2 separate regions of the Homo sapiens genome follow, and region 1 is linked to region 2. Evidence: fine-mapped expression QTL. A gene starts in region 2. The other region holds a variant in brackets. All regions are shown on one strand. Distances are between the middles of the regions. Region 1 has its middle 25 kb from the start of CAMSAP3. Region 2 holds the start of CAMSAP3 (calmodulin regulated spectrin associated protein family member 3).

What was found. PIP is the estimated chance that this variant, and not a neighbour inherited with it, causes the effect.
Region 1: its variant is fine-mapped to the expression of CAMSAP3 in sun-exposed skin (GTEx, PIP above 0.99).

What each region holds. Positions count from the first base shown.
Region 1 is chr19:7,566,025-7,574,790 of GRCh38, forward strand. No RefSeq gene overlaps it. Among named protein-coding and RNA genes, the nearest start is that of CAMSAP3, 25 kb to the right of the region's middle. The variant C/A (reference allele first, on the strand shown) is at 4,961.
Region 2 is chr19:7,590,516-7,599,281 of GRCh38, forward strand. CAMSAP3 (calmodulin regulated spectrin associated protein family member 3) reads left to right here and starts at 5,348. Exons shown (of 17, transcript NM_020902.2): 1 at 5,348-5,635. The coding sequence starts at 5,488. RefSeq lists silencers at 2,784-2,984, 5,048-5,487 and an enhancer at 6,327-6,932.

The DNA of each region.
Region 1 (8,766 bases), 24 kb before region 2:
ACCCCTCTCTGGTTCCAGAGCTTGAGACTCAGCTAGCGCCAAGAAATTTTGAGGTTACAGTGAGGACCTGGGTTCAGGGTCAGGGGCCCTGTCCTGCAATCCACAGGAGCTGGCCACGAGGTGTGGACCCAAGAGACTGATAAAGTCACATTCTCAAGAGTGTTTTCTTGGTCTCTCTCTCTCTGTCTCTCTCTGTCTCTCTCTGTCTGTCTCTCTGTCTCTCTCTCCCCCTCTCCCTCTCCCTCTCCTCTTTTTCTTTCTTTCTTTGACAGAGTCTCTATCTGTCACCCAGGCTGGAGTGCAGTTGTGTGATCTCGCCTTAGCGCAACCTCCACCTCCTGGGCTCAAGTGATTCTCCCACCTCAGCTTCCTGAATAGCTGAGATTATAGGTGCATGCCACCATGCCCAGCTAATTTTCTTTTTAATTCTTAGTAGAGATGGGGTTTTGCCATGTTGGCCAAGCTGATCTTGAACTCCTGACCTCAAGAAATCTGCCTGCCTTGGCCTCCCAAAATGCTGGGATTACAGGCATGAGCCACCGCACCCAGCCTCTTGGTGTGTTTGTTGCCCAGTGTCTGGAAATGGCCATGTAGAGGTTGGACAGGGAAGAACCAACCTGGTCAGGCTGTAGGACATCTTTTGGCCACCCAGGCCAAGTGCAGTGGCTCATACTTGTAATCCCAACACTTTGGGAGGCCAAAGCAGGAGGATCGCTTGAGGCCAGGGGTTCAAGACCAGCCTGGGTGACATAGTGAGACTCTGACTCTATGAAAAATATTAAAAGTAGCTGAGTGTGAGGGTGGGCTTCTGTAGTCCCAGCTACTTGGGAAGCTGAAGTTAGAAGATCGCTTGAGCCCAGGAGTTAGAGGCTGCAGTGAGCTATAATTGCACCACTGCACTCCAGCCTGGGCAACAGAGTAAAACCTTTTATAAAAATAATATTAATAATAAGTTTAGGCCAGGCACAGTGGCTCATGCCTGTAATCTCAGTACTTTGGGAGGCCAAGGCAGGTAGGTCACTTGATGCCAGGAGTTGGAGACCAGCCTGGCCAACATGGTGAAACCCCTTCTCTACTAAAAATACAAAATAGCTGGATGTGGTGGTGCGTGCCTGTAATCCCAGCTTCTTGCGAGGCTGAGGCACGAGAATTGCTTGAACCTGGGAGGCAGAGATTACAATGAGCCGAGATCATGCCACTACGCTCCAGCCTGGGTGACAGAATAAGCCTCTATCTCAAAAAATAAATAAACAAATTAAAAAAAATAAGAGGCTGGGCATGGCGGCTCACACCTGTAATCCCAGCACTTTGGGAGGCTAAGGCAGGAGGATTGCTTGAGCCCAGGAGTTTGAGGCTGCAGTGATCTATTATCACACCACTACACTCCAGCCTGGGTGACAGAGCAAGACCCTATCTCTGAAACAAAAATAATAACAAAAAAAGCAAAAAACAGGGAATTTTCCTTTCCTTCTTTATTGCCAGAAAGGAAAAAAAAAATCAGGGTCCTACATTTGCACAGATTGGCAGGTTCTGCCCATTGCTAGCCAGCTGACCTTGGGCTTCCCTTCCCCCATTCTCAAATTTGTCACCTGTGTATTCTACCTAATTTTAGTCCCAGTGGGTTGCTTTGTAATTTATCTTTATTTTTATTTTTTTGAGATGGAGTTTTGTTCTTGTTGCCCAGGCTTGAGTGCAATGGCATGATCTTGGCTCACCACAACCTCCGTCTCAGCTCACCGCAACCTCTGCCTCTGGAGTTAAAGCGATTCTCCTGCCTCAGCCTCCCGAGTAGCAGGGATTGCAGGCATGTGCCGCCACACTTGGCTAATTTTGTATTTTTAGTAGAGACAGGGTTTCTACATGTTGGTGAGGCTGGTCTTGAACTCCCGACCTCAGACGATCTTCCCACTTTGGCCTCCCAAACTGCTGGGATTACAGGCGTGAGCCACCATGCCCGACCTGTGATCTAAATAAAAGGAAACAGGCTGGGCGTGGTGGCTCACACCTGTAATCCCAGCACTTTGGGGGGCCAAAGTGGGAGGATCGCTTGACGTCAGGAGTTCGAAACCAGCCTGGGTAACATAGTGAGACCCCCCCCCCCGTCTCTAATAAAGAATAATACATTAATAAAATAAAATAGGCCAGGCACGGTGGCTCACGCCTGTAATCCCAGCACTTCGAGAGGCCAAGACGGGTGGGATCACCTGAGGTCAGGAGTTCGAGACCAGCCTGGCCAACATGGTGAAACCCCGTCTTTACTAAAAATACAAAAATTAGCTGGGCGTGGAGACGCACGCCTGTAATCCCAGCTACTCAGGAGGCTGAGGCAGGAGAATCGCTCGAACCCAGGAGGCAGAGGTTGCAGTGAGCTAAGATCGTGCCACTGCGCTCCAGCCTGGGCGACAGAGCAGGACACCGTCTCAAAAAAATTAATAATAAAATAAAACTAAGATAAAACAAAACAGAGCTCCTTGCAGGAGGAAACTGACGCACACACCTACCTGGACCAGATTCTTACTTTTCTGCCACCAGGGGGCGGTCCTGCTATGGCGTTCAGGCGTCTGGCTCCGGGGTGGAGCTTTGCTGACTAGGGGAGGGTTAAGCACCGAGTAGCTGTGGGCTGACTTACTGCTTTTTTTTTTTTTTTTTTTGTCGTTTAGAATTAACATTTATTGGAAAGGAGGGGAGGGGAGGGAGTACTGTTCTCATTATAAAATCATTACCTGTGTGCTTCAGCCAGGTGCAGTGGCTCATGCCTGTAATCCCAGCACTTTGGGAGGCTGAGGCAGGTGGATCACTTGAGGTCAGGAGTTCGAGACCAGCCTGGACAAGAAGATGAAACCCCGTATCTACTAAAAATACAAAAAATTTAGCCGGGCGTGGTGGTGGTCGCCTGTAATCCCAGCTACTCGGGAGGCTGAGGCAGGAGAATCACTTGAACCCAGGAGGTGGAGGTTGCAGTGATCTGAGATCACACCACTGCACTCCAGCCTGGGCAACAGAGTGAGACTCCATCTCAAACAAACAAACCCACAAACAAATTATTACTTGTGTGCTTAGAACAAATTTATAAAACAAATGCAACATAAACATAAAGGTAATATGTGTTCATTTGGAAATATATGTTCATGGAAAGCAGAGTGTAAAAAAAGAAAAGGTCACAGGAATTCCACCGCCTGGATGTGAACACTGCTAATACTCCCTTCTTTTTTCCCAATTTCCTTCCTTTTGTTTTGTTTTGTTCTGTTTTGTTTTTTGAGATGAAGTCTCACTCTGTCGCCCAGGCTGGTGTGCAGTGGTTTGATCTCGGCTCACTGCAACCTCCGCCTCCCGGGTTCAAGCGATTCTCCTGTCTCAGTCTCCTGAGTAGCTGGGATTACAGGCATAAGCCACCATGCCCAGCTAATTTTTGTATTTTTAGTAGAGATGGGGTTTCACCATGTTGGCCAGCTGGTCTTGAACTCCTGACCTCAGGTGATCTGCCCACCTTAGCCTCCCAAAGCAATGGGATTACAGGCGTGAGCCCCAGTGCCTGGCCCAGAGTCAGTTTTTTATTCTGCAATCAATTTAAATGTCCTAGATTTGCTTTTATTGCAAGTCAGTGCCTTGAAAGAAAAGATGAGAGCGTTTGATGACATGAAAACATGCTTAACAAAGACAGAAGACAAACAAAGCCAATAGCCTGGAAGGAAATATTTGTCACATAAATTAGGCAGATGATCGAGCTTTGTTCATGTTTATTGAACACTTACTATTATATATACCAGCCATTGTTTGGGGGGGGTTGTATTTATCAAATAACTTAATTTTTAGCCCTTTGATATAGGTAGTATTATTATTTCCTTTTTTATCTTTTTGGTGTTTTTGTTGGTGTTCTTGCTGTTTTTGAGAATGGGTACCGCTCTGTCGCCCAGGCTGGAGTGCTATTGGGCAATCATATCTCACAGCAGCCTCGACCTCCTGGGCTCAAGCAATCCTCCCACCTCAGCCTCCCCAGTAGCTGAGACTACAGGCCCCTGTCACCACACCTGACTAATTTGTTTTATTTTTTCAAAGTGAGATGGCGGAGGCGGGTGGGGGGTCTCACTTTGTTGCCCAGGCCGGCCTCGAACTCCTGGGCTCCAGCGATCCTCCTGCCTCAGCTTCCCAAAGTGCTGGGATTACAGGTGTGAGCCACCATGCCCGGCCAGTTTTCACTTCTTAATTTGGCAAATGCTAAAAATATTAACACATCCAGTCACACTGAAAGTTGGGTGAATAAGAAACATCTTCACAGTGTTAGGCTGGGAAACTGTCAATTATGGAGATTTTAGGGGGAAGGGAATTTGACTGTCATCATGCAACAAATTTTTTTTTTTTTTTTTTTGAGACGGAGTCTCGCTCTGTCGCCCAGGCTGGAGTGCAGTGGCGTGATCTCGGCTCACTGCAAGCTCCGCCTCCTGGGTTCATGCCCTTCTCCTGCCTCAGCCTCCCAAGGAGCTGGGACTACAGGCGCCCGCCGCCACGCCCGGCTAATTTTTTGTATTTTGAGTAGAGACGGGGTTTCACCATGTTAACCAGGATGGTCTCGATCTCCTGACCTTGTGATCCGCCCGCCTTGGCCTCCCAGTAAACAACAAATATAAAGCGCATAACTTTTGACCTAGCCGGGTTTCGTCCAACAATCAATCCTCTATAAACGCATGCGTCTAAAGATGTGTGTTCCTCACAGCGCTTTTCTGCAATGATGCCGTTGCTTATAAAAGTGAAAATTGGAAAACAGTCTCAGTGACTGACAACAGAGGCATAGTTTAATAAATTAGGGCACAGTACCTTACGGGAATGCTCTGAAGCCATTAACAAGAATGAAACAGACTTATAGCTATTGACATAAAAAAAATTCCTAGGTACTCTGCTCCACGGATAAAAAGAGTCATAGAACATTGTGTACAGTATGATCACATTTACGTCCAAGACCGTC[C/A]ATGACACACAGGTTTGTACATGCACGGGATGCCCTGGGAGGATAGTTCCTTGGGAAGAAATATCAGGGTGGGAATTTAAGGGGGAGAATTTCAATATTTTTACTTTTCTACTGTTTGACACTTTAACAATGAGATTGCATTATTGTGATAATTTTTAAATTTATTTGATAATTTTTAAAGCCCCCAGAAATGATCCTGTTTTGAAATTGTTAAATATTTCTTTTTGTTTTACTTATTTATTTATTTTCGAGACAGGGTCTCATCCCATCACCCAGGCTGTAGTGCAGTGGCACTGTCTCAGCTCACTGCAGCCTCTGCCTCCTGGGTTCAAGTGATCCTCCCACCTCAGCCTCCCAAGTAGCTGGGACTACAGGGCATGTACCACCATGCCTAGCTAATTTTTTTATTTTTAGTAGAGGTGAGGTCTCCCTATGTTGCCCAGGATCGTCTCAAACTCCTTGGCTCAAGCAATCTGCCTGCCTTGGCCTTTCGAAGTGCTAGGATTACGGGCATGAGCCACCTTGCCTGGCTCTTTTTAAATTTTATTATTTTTTATTTTACAAAAGTAGAGACAGGGTCTCACTGTTCTGCCCAGGCTGGTGTTGAACTCCTGGGCTCAAGTGGCTGGCCCACCTCCACCTCCCAGAGTGTTGGGATCACGGGCTTGAGCCATCGCACCTGGCCTAAATATTTCTTTAAAATGACAGAAAGCCGGGCATGGTGGCTCACTCCTGTAATCCCAGCACTCTGGGAGGCCGAGGCAGGCGGATTACCTGAGGTCAGGAGTTCCAGACCAGCCTGGTCAACATGGCAAAACCCCATCTCTACTAAAAATACAAAAATTAGTCCCAGCTACTTGGGAGGCTGAGGCAGGAGAATCGCTTGAACCCGGGAGGTGGAAGTTGCAGTGAGTCGACATCGCACTACTGCACTCCAGCCTGGACGACAGAGCAAGACTCTGTCTCAAAAAACAATAACAAAAACAAAACAGAAAATAAAACATAACAGAAGACAGGCAGAGCAACAGTCTGGGAGGAAATATTTGTCACATCAATTAGGCAGAATATCAAGCATTGTTCATGTTTATTGAACACTTATTGTATACCAGCCACTGTTTTGAGGCGGGGGGGGGTTATGGTTATATTTATCAAGTAACTTAATCCTGTGATCATGGTTGTTTCTGACATTTCAGTGTTATGAATGAAACCGGGATGAATATCTTTTTTTTTTTTTTTGAGATGGAGTTTCACTCTTATTGCTGGAGTGTAAAGGCACGATCTCAGCTCACTGCAACCTCCATCTCCCGGGTTCAAGCAATTCTCCTGCCTCAGCCTCCTGAGTAGCTGGGATTACAGGCATGCGCCACCACGCCTGGTAAATTTTGTATTTTTAGTAGAGACAGGGTTTCTCCATGTTGGCCAGGCTGGCTCGAGCTCCCAACCTCAGGTGATCCACCCGCCTTGGCCTCCCAAAGTGCTGGGATTACAGGCATGAGCCACGGCGCCCGGCGAGGGGATGAATATGTACGAATCTTCACGTGCATCTGTGAGGATATCTTTATGTTATCTCTAATTTTTGTGTTTGGTTTATTTCAGAGTTGGGATCTCACTATGTTGCCCAGGCTGGTCTTAAACTGGACGATTCTCCGGCCTCAGTCTCTCAAAGCGCTGGGATTACTGACAAGCCACTGCCCCAGTCCTGCTTAGTTTTCTTTACATTACAAAGCAAACTTTTGTGTCAGGGACTAAAATCAGGTAGAATACAAAGATGGTAAAACAGTCTGGGAGAGCTTAAACCCGAGGCCATCTAGCTGGCAAGCGGCAGAACTTGCCACTCTGTGCACGTTCAAGTCCCTGTTCTTTTGTTTGTTTCTTGTTTTTTTTTTAGAGACAGGTTCTCTCTCTGTCGCCCAGCTGGGAGGGAGTGCACAGGCATGATCATAGCTCAGTGCAGTCTCCACCTCCTAGGCTCAATCGATCCTCCCACCTCTGCCTCCCAAGTAGGTGGGACTAGAGGCATGCGACACCATGCCTAGCTCATTTTTAATTTTTTTTTTATAAAGACGGAGTCACGGCTGGGCACAGCAGCTCATGTCTCTAATCCCAGAACTTTGGGAGGCTGAAACCAGCAGATCACGAGGTCAGGAGTTCAAGACCAGCCTGGCCAACATAGTGAAACCCCGTCCTACTAAAAATTCAAAAATTAGCCAGGAGTGGTGGCAGGTGCCTGTAATTCCAGCTACTCAGGAATGCTGAGGCAGGAGAATCACTTGAACTCTGGAGGCAGCGGTTGCAGTGAGCTGAGATCATGCCACTGCACTCCAGCCTGGGGCAACAGAGTGAGACTTAGTCCTAAAAAAAAAAAAAAAAAAAAAAAAAAAAAGCCAGGCATGGTGACTCACACCTATAATCCTAGCCCTTTGGGAGGCTGAGGTGGGTGGATCACCTGAGGTTGGGAGTTCGGGACCAGCCTGGCCAACATGGAGAAACCCTGTCTGTACTAAAAATACAAAAATTAGATGGGCGTGATGGCGCATGCCTGTAATCCCATTTACTCAGGAGGCTGAGGCAGGAGAATCGCTTGAACCCAGGAGGTGGAGGTTGTGATAAGCTGAGATGGCGCCACTGAACTCCAGCCTGGTCAACAAGAGCCAAACTCCATCTCAAAAAAAAAAAAAGATATTGATTTTTAAATTTTTCAATTCCCAATTATTCATTGTTATCGTGTAGAAATACAGTTTAGTTTTATATATAGACCTTGTATTCTACAACTTCACTAAATCACTTACTGGATCTAGTAGGTTTTTTGTACATTCATTCTGATTTTTTGTGTAGATGATGTTTTATTTTTCTTTCTTTTCATATATGTTCGCTATCATCTTTCTCTTCTTTCCAAGTCTGTGTGCTTTTTATTTCATTTCCTACCTTATTGCACTGTCTGGGACTTCCAATACAATACTGAATAGAGGTAGTAAGAACAGACATCCTTGGCCAGGCATGGTGGCTCACGCCTGTAATCTCAGCACTTTGGGAGGCCAAGGTGGGCGGATCACCTGAGGTCAGGAGTTCGAGACCGGCCTGGCCAACAATGCGGAACCCCGTCTCTACTAAAAATACAAAAATTAGCTGGGTGTGGTGGCATGTGCCTGTAATCCCAGCTACTTGGCAGCCTGAGTTGGGAGAATCGTTTGAACCTGGAAGGCAGAGGTTGCAGTGAGATGAGATCGTGCCACTGCACTCCAGCCTGAGGGACAAAGCAACAACACCCTGTCTCAAAAAACAAAACAAAAACCAGGCTGGGCGCGGTGGCTCTCGCCTGTAATCCCAGCACTTTGGGAGGCCGAGGTGGGCAGATCACGAGGTCAGGAGATCGAGATCATCCTGGCCAACATGGTGAAACCCCGTCTCAACTAAAATACAAAAAAAAAAAAAAGAAGCCAGGCAAGGTGGCACGCGCCTGTAATCCCAGCTACTCAGGAGGCTCAGGCAGGGGAATTGCTTGAACCTGGGAGGCAGAGGTTGCAGTGAGCTGAGATCGCGCCACTGCACTCCAGCATGGCGACAGAGAGACTGTCTCAAAAAAAAAACAAAACAAAACAAAACTGGACATCCTTACCTTGTTTCCAATCTTAGGATAAAACATTGAGTCTTACTATTAAGTATGATATTAGCCATGTTTCATGTATTTCTTTGTTTAATCTCTTAATTTGGCAATTCCATTGATTGATTTTATTTTATTTTATTTATTTTTTTGAGACAAGGTCTCCCTCTTATCCCCCAGGCTGGAGTGCACTGGCGCGATCTCA
Region 2 (8,766 bases):
GGCCCCTGGAGGCAGGGACAGGAGCACTTGACCTGCACCAACACCTCTGGACCTGGACGGCCCCCCACCCATCCTTCCCAAACTGCAGCCCCCTCCCGGGATGGGAAGCTGAACCCGTGTATCCACCCCACATCTCCCCGGATTGTGTGTGAGCATGCTGCATTTGCTGCCTTTGCTGGGTTTGTCCTTGGGGTCCACGGAGGTCATGGGAACCATCCCAGGAAAAGCAAACCCACGTGTGAGCCGGCAGGACACGCCAAGCTCACAGAGGGGCAGGTTATGGCAGAAGCACCCTTTCCTGCTGGAAATGCTTCCCCGGGCCAGGAACCCCAGGTCTCCAGATGGGGAAACTGAGGTCCAGTGGGGAAAAGACCTTGTTTAGGTCCTTCGAGGGGACTGGGACAGGAGCCGGGGCATGCGTCATCCACATCAGCACCTGTGCTCACACACACAGACACTGGCCCCTTTGCGCACCCACACCCACTCCTGCACGGGCACATCCAGACAGGAGGGCCCACGCCCCAGCTCCCCTCCCTCGGCACACCCACCCCCATGCCTGCTCACATGCTCCGGACCATGAGACCCACGCCCCAAACACACGTGCCATTTCAACAAAGAGCTAGCTCTGGGGCCACCATCCGGGGTCAAGGGTCTTGGAGACCACCTTGCCACAGCGTCTTTCCATTTCATAGCGTTTTGTTTTTGTTTTTTTTTATGAGACGGAGTTTTTTTGCTCTCATTGCCCAGGCTGGAGTGCAATGGTGCGATTTTGGCTCACCGCAACCTCCACCTCCCAGGTTCAAGCGATTCTCCTGCCTCAGCCTCCTGAATAGCTGGGATTACAGGCATGCGACACCATGCCTGGCTAATTTTGTGTTTTTAGTAGAGATGGGGTTTCTCAATGTTGGTCAGGTTGGTCTTGAACTCCAGACCTCAGGTGATCTGCCCACCTTGGCCTCCCAAAGTGTTGGAATTTATTTATTTATTTATTTATTTATTTTTTTTTTTGAGACGGAGTTTCGCTCTTGTTGCCCAGGCTGGAGTGCAGTGGTGCAATCTCAGCTCACCGCAATCTCTGCCTTCTGGTTTCAAGCAATTCTCCTGCCTCAGCCCCCCAAGTAGCTGGGATTACAGGCATGCACCACCACCTCTGGCTAATTTTTTTTTTATTTTTAGTAGAGATGGGTTTCTCCATGTTGGTCAGGCTGGTCTTGAACTCCGGACCTCAGGTGATCCGCCCACCTCAGCCTCCCAAGGTGCTGGGATTACAGGCGTGAGCCACTGGGCCCGGTCTTTTTTTTTTTTTTTTCTTTTTGAGATGGAGTCCTGCTCTTTCGCCCAGGCTAAAGTGCAGTGGCACGATCTCAGCTCACTGCAACCTCTGCCTCCTGGGTTCAAGCAATTCTTCTGCCTCAGCCTCCTGAGTAGCTGGGATCACAGGCGCCAGCCACCACACACAGGGAATTTTTGTATTTTTAGTAGAGATGGGGTTTCACAATGTTGGCCAGGCTGGTCTCGAATTCCTGACCTCAGGTGATGCACCTGCCTCAGCCTCCCAAAGTGCTGGGATTACAGGAGTGAGCCACTGTGCCCGGCCTGTATGTTATCTTTTTACGTATCACTTTCTGAGTGCATTTGTGTGCATGAAGCTGACATTTACATTTGTGTGAATTTGTGAATATTTGTGTGAGTCTGTGAGCACTTATTCCTGTTCACAAGGTGACAAGGTGCCTATGTATGTGTGTGTGTGTGTGTGTGTTCTGAAAGTAACACACGTTTTTCTTTTCTTTTTTTTTTTTTTTTGAGACAGAGTCTGGCTCTGTCACCCAGGCTGGAGTGCAGTGGCAAGATCTCAGCTCACTTCAACCTCTGCCTCCTGGGTTCAAGCGCTTCTCCTGCCTCAGCCTCCCAAGTAGCTGGGATTACAGGCATGTGCCACCATGCCTGGCTAATTTTTGTATTTTTAGTAGAGACAGGGTTTCACCATGTTGGTCAGGCTGGTCTTGAACTCCTGACTTCAAGTGATCCACCTGCCTCGGCCTCCCAAAGTGCTGGGATTACAGGCTTCAGCCACCGTGCCTGGCCGAAAGTAACACACTTTTCTTTCCAGGCCTGTAAAGAACGAACTCACACAAACACTTGTGCATTCACAATTATATACAGCTAAGAGGCATGCAGGGGATATTTTGACAAAAATACAATGGAGGGCCAAGCACAGTGGCACATGCCTGTAATCCCAGCACTTTGGGAGGCCGAGGTGGGAGGATCCCTTGAGCCTAGGAGTTTGAGATCAGCCTGGGCAATATAAGGAGATCCCATCTCTACACAAAACAAAAAATTAGCCAGGGATGGTGGCTGCAGTGAGCCATGATTGTGCCACTGCACTCAAGCCTGGGGTGACAGAGTGAGATCCTGTCCAAAAAAAAAATAAAACAACAACAACAAAACAAACAATAGAACAAAAGCAAATATTAAAATATTAAAAACATCCGGCTGGGCGCGGTGGCTCATGCCTGTAATCCCAGCACTTTGGGAGGCCGAGGCGGGTGGATCACCTGAGGTCAGGAGATCAAGACCATCCTGACTAACACAATGAAACCCCGTCTCTACTAAAAATACAAAATATTAGCTGGGCATGGTGGCCGGCGCCTGTAGTTCCAGCTACTGGGGAGGCTAAGGCAGGAGAATGGCGCGAACCCGGGAGGCGGAGCTTGCAGTGAGCTAAGATTGCACCACTGCACTCCAGCCTGGGTGACAGAGCGAGACTCGGTCTCAAAAAAAAAAAAAAAAACAAACAGAAAAAAAAAAACCAAAAATCCACAAATCGGTGCTTAGACCTTACAAATAAACACACAATTGCACTCATGTACACAAATATTTGTACTCAACGCGTTCACACACACTTCCATACTTACAGACACAATCAGATTCATACACAGAAATACATTTGCTTACACAGATATGAATTCCTAGATAAATATGCACATTTGAACTCTCACAAAAGCATTCAGACACAGGCATTCTTTTTTTTTTTTTTAATGTGACGGAGTCTCACTCTGTCGCCCATGCTGGAGTACAGTGGTGCAATCCTAGCTTGCTGCAACCTCTGCCTCCTGGGTTCAAGCGATTCTCCTGCCTCAGCCTCCCAAGTAGCTGCAATTATAGGTGTGGGCAACCACGCCCGGCTAACTTTTGTATTTTTAGTAGAGATGGGGTTTCACCATGTTGGCCAGGCTGGTTTTGAACTCCTGACCTCAGGTGATCCACCCGCCTCAGCCTCCCAAAGCACTGGGATTACAGGCATGAGCCACTGCACCCAGCAGAAACAGGCATTCTTGCACAGGTATACCTGCTTTCATGCCTACACAATCTGTCACAGGCACCCACCATATATTCAAATCCACAAAGATACTCACATATAAACACACATATATGCACAAAAATATAGTCAGGAACTGCTCATCATAAATCACACATCTGCTGGGCGCGGTGCCTCAAGCCTGTAATCCCAGCACTTCAGGAGGCCGAGTTGGGCGGATCACGAGGTCAGGAGATCGAGACCATCCTGGCTAACATGGTGAAACCCGGTCTCTACTTAAAAAAAAATACAAAAAACCAGCCGGGCGTGGTGGCGGGTGCCTGTAGTCCCAGCTACTCGGGAGGCTGAGGCAGGAGAATGGCATGAACCCAGGAGGCAGAGCTTGCAGTGAGCCAAGATCGCACCACTGCACTCCAGCCTGAGCGATAGAGCGAGACTCCGTCTCAAAAAATCAATCAATCAATCAATCACACATCCATGTGCATATAGCCAGATTCACATACTCAAATACAAACCCACTTAGACACACAGCCTCACCTCCACACAGAGCCTTCTCCCAGCACACACTGCAGATACCAGAATAATACACAAAGACACTTGCAAATACACCCAGTACAGCTACGCAAGGACACTCATAGACACAAATAGTCACACTCTTGCAGAAATATACACACTTTTTTTTTTTTTTTGAGACAGGGTCTCACTCTGTTGGCCAAGCTGGAGTGCAGTGGCACTATCTCAGCTTCTGCCTCCCTGGTTCAAGCGATTCTCCCGCCTCAGCCTCCCGAGTACTTGGGATTACAGGCATGCACCATTATGCCCGGCTAATTTTTAAAAATTTTATTTTTAGTAGAGACGGGGTTTTGCTATGTTGGCCAGGCTACTCTTGAACTCCTGGCCTCAAGTGATCTGCCCGCCTTGGCCTCCCAAAGTGCTGGGATTACACTCGTGGCCACCGCTCTCGGCCTGAAATACACACACTCTCAATGTCTCTCCATACTCCTGCATTGACAGAGGCATCAATAACAGCCTCATACAACACACCAGTACGTTCAGATGCACAGAGATAGACATACTCACAGCACTCCAAAAACACACACACAGCCGGGCACGGTGGCTGCCGCCTGTAATCCCAGCACTTTGGGAGGCTGAGGCGGGTGATCACCTGAGGTCAGGAGTTTGAGACTAGCCTGGCTAACATGGTGAAACCCCAACTCTACTAAAAATACAAAAATTAGCCGGGAGTGGTGGCGCAACCCCGTAATCCCAGCTACTCGGGAGGCTGAGGCAGGAGAATCGCTTGAGCCTGGGAGGCGGAGGTTGCAGTGAGTCGAGATCGCGCCACTGCACTCCAGCCTGGGAGACAGAGTGAGTGAGACCCTGTCTCAAAAACAAAAACAAAAACAAAAACAAAAAACAGACACACACTCATCACTTCCATCCATCCTCAGGATACAGACATCTATATAATACATATCCTTGTACACACAACAAATTAAACACACACTTACACGTGCCCAGATACATACCCCACACACACACACCCCTAGACACCCCCCAATACACTTGGTCACCACCCAAATGTATTCAGAGATACACAGATACGAAGACACTCATATTCTTGTGCCTTCACTAACATAATCAGAAACAGGTGCACCCAACCACTCTCTGCCTGAGGGCCGGCGTTTATTGCAAGCACTTGCAGGAGCTCCTACGCCTAAGGGTAGACACTGGGGCTGGCACACACAGAGGGTCCCTAATCCTTTCCAGTAAGCTAGGCGCGCGCGCACACACTCACACACGCGCGCGCGCACACATACACACTCAGTCCTCCGCAAGCTCCCTCCACCATCGCCGCAGTCCAGGCCGCCCCCCTCCGCCCCGCCCCTGCTGCTCCGTGCACACTGCAGTGAGGGGCCCGGGCGGGGCGCAGGGGCGCGCCAGGGTCCGGGTCCGGGTTCGGGGGCGGGGCGCACCTGGGCTCCTCCCCGGGGCGGGCCCGACGCAGCGTCGCCAGCGCAAGCGGCCGCACCTGGCTCAGCAGCGGCGGCGGCGGCGGCGGCGGCAGCGGCGGTAGCAGCAGCGGGCCCGGCTGGGGCGCGAGCGCGGCGCAGCCCAGCCCAGCCCAGTCCGAGCGCGGACCCGGCGCCCGCAGCCCCGGCGCCGCCATGGTGGAGGCGGCGCCCCCCGGGCCCGGGCCGCTGCGGAGGACCTTTCTAGTGCCCGAGATCAAGTCGCTGGACCAGTACGATTTCTCGCGGGCCAAGGCGGCGGCCAGCCTGGCGTGGGTGCTGCGGGCCGCGTTCGGGGGCGCAGGTACCGGGGCTCGGGGGACCGGGGTCGGGGGCGGCGGGCCGGGCGCGGCAGGTGCTGGGGGGGGGCGGGGCGCCGGGCCGGGAAGGCAGGGGGCCGTGGGAACAATAGCGCCGGCCGCCGGGGGTCCCCGGGCTCGGGCCCCTGCCGCGCCGGGGCCTCCGAGCTTCCTGCTCGGCCCGGGCGGTGGACTTTGCCCCGCCGGCTGCGGGAGCGCGGTGGGGGTGGGGCCCGCGGCCCAGCTCCGCGCGGGGGTCCCCGGCGTCCAAGCCTCCAGGTGAGCCGGGCGGGGTCTGCGGGCCGGGTGGGGTCTCCCCGTGCGGACCTCTCGTTCCCGCCTCCCGCACCCCCAAGGCCTTCCCTTGCACGCCTTCTTCTCTTTTACACACATCACGCCCCTGCGAGGATCTCCTCTCGGTCTCTTCCCCCGCCACACACCCTGGAGACCCAGACCCCGACCTCGCTGGGGGGTCTCGAGCGCTCCGGTCTCCACCACCGCACGACCCCCAGGCCCCAACACACACCCCGCGTCGGCCCTGGCCGCGCTGCGGGCGGCGACCGGGGAGCTCTGGGAACCCCCTTTCGCCTCCATAGCCCCCTCCAGCGCCTGGCAGCTGCGACTTATGGCCCCATTTTACTGGGGAGGTTGGCGAGCCCAGCTGAAGGGAAATGGGTAGTACAAGATCGCCTGGGGTGGGCCCCCCGCTCCTCCCGGCTGCGGGGCCTTCTCCCATTAGAGCAGATCCTTCACTCCCTCCCCCAGGCCCGCTTGCCTGAGAGCCCGAGCCACCCTAATGGGGAGGATGCCGTAATCCCGGGTCCCCGGGATTAGAGGCCCTGGAAACACTCAGTCTCGGCTTTGGGCAGCTTCACAACCCCAGGCCAGAGCTAGGAGTCAGGGCCTGGCCAGAGAAGACAGGGGTTAATTAAGGTCTGGGCTTTCCAGCGGGGAGCTGTGGGGGTACATCCTTTTCTCCCACTGGTTCTGCCCACTGGTGTTGGCACAGCCCATCCCCCCTCTCCCTGGCCTTCCCAGATCAACCTGTTCTGGGTGTGGGTCTCAGTGACAGCTGTCCGTCTCCTGGTTCCGCCCCAGCCTGTCCCTCTTTCTCCCAGACAGTCTCTGTCTGCGTCGTTCCATGCATGCATTTCCCACTCTGGGGTCTACCTCCCTGCAGATATTTGCTTGAGGAAGAAAGAGATTGGGCATTGGACAGCCAGGACAGCCCCAGCTCCTCACTTCCAAGGTTACCAGGCTGTAGAGAACTCAACGTGGAGTGTCAGAATTGAATGTGAAGTCCAGCTGCACCAGAATGCGAATTATCCCAATTATCTGAGCTTCTGTTTCCCCTTCTATAAAAGAAGGCGTTCATTCACAGACTTATCTGTTTTGCGAATGTTTGTGGGGCAGGGGCACTTGCTATGTGTAGGGCACTGCTCCAGTGATGGAGACCCCCCGTTACCTCTTTGCAAGGTTGCTGGGAGGCGTAAAAGCTGTAGTGACCACAGAATTCTTCGCGTGGCACGGGGCGCGTGATACATGCGAAACGGTTGCTCGCTGCTGGTGTGATTGGCGGTGGTATATTTTGATGAATAATATTAACGTTATCCATTATCCCCTGGCCAGGAATCAGAGTAGAAATTATCCCATTTTGAAGACAGCAAAGCAAACTTCTGATGAGGGGTGTTGGTGAGCTCCCAGTGCCCTGACTCACCCAGTTCTGTTCTTGTTGACCCAGCTCCCTCTGCTGTGTGACACACGGCAGTGGCTGCCTCTACCGTGAGGGTCAAGTTCAATCTGTTCCCTGTTCCACTCCCCTAAAAAGAGGAGAAGGGCTGAAGGAAATGGGAGCAGAGTTCTACAAGATTCATGAGCTCTGGGGACTCTTGACGGTATGATACCTATCAGGTGCTGGGCTGGGCGCTCAGGGTGTAGAGGAGACGGCAGGGGATGGATATGGGGCAGAGGGGGATGGGCAGGAAACCAGATCATAGGGAAGCTGGCCAGCGGGGCCTGGGGAAAGAAATTCTTGAAATCTTCCAGGGAGGGAAGAGATCCCACAGGTGGAAAGATTTGAGTCTGGAAGGATGCATGGAAGTTTGACACGGAGAAGAGATGTGTGGGCAGTGGGCAAAGGCTCGGAGTGTGGACCAGCAGGGAGTTCTCAGAGAATAAGATGCAGGTCCCCGGGGTGGCGGTGGGAGATAAGGGAGGCTGGTCAGACTGAGGAAGGCCCTTCAGGCCCCTGGTTATGGATCCAAGGGTACTGGGGAGCCACGGACAGTGTTGGGAACTGACAAGATCAGGTATGCAGTGGCCCCGTGGGAGTAGTGATGGCTCAGAGGAAGGGATAGTTCTGGCAACTCCAAGGCACAGGTGTGAGAAGGCTGTGCAGAAATAAAAGCAGAACACAAGCTTGGAGATTAGATAAGAAAGGGTTCCAAGCCTGGCCAACACGATGAATCCCCGTCTCTACTAAAAATCCAAAAATTAGCCGGGAATGATGGCACACGTCTGTAGTCCCAGCTACTTGGGAGGCTGAGGCAGGAGAATTGTTGAACCTGTGAGGCGGAGGTTGCAGTGAGCCGAGATTGCACCACTGCACTCCAGCCTGGGTGAAAGAGAGAGACTCTGTCTCAAAAAACAAAGGGTTCCATGTTAAACACATTTGGAAAACACCCCATGCAGTTCTTTATGCCTTCAGAACAGATGTGTGATGTGTGAGGGAAACTCAAGTTCATGTTGGACATTTTTATCCTGGACAAGTTATCTCAGCTCTCCAGGCCTTGGTTTTCTCATCTGTACAAGGGGTATAATAATAAGTGTCGTAAGGATTAAATGACTGGATGCAGGGAAGGTCATGGTATAAATAAATGGTTGGGTGTGGTGGCATGGGCTTGTAGTCCCAGCTACTCAGGAGGCTGAGGCAGGAGGATTGCCTGAGCCCAGGAGTTCCAGGGTACAGTCAGCTATGATCACGCCACTGCACTCCAGCCTGGGCAACAGAGTGAGATCCTGTCTCAATCAGCCTTCCATCCATCCATCCACCCATCCATCTACCCACTCATCCATCCATCCACCCACCCATTCATTCATCCATCCATCCACCCACCCACCTACCCACTGCACTCAT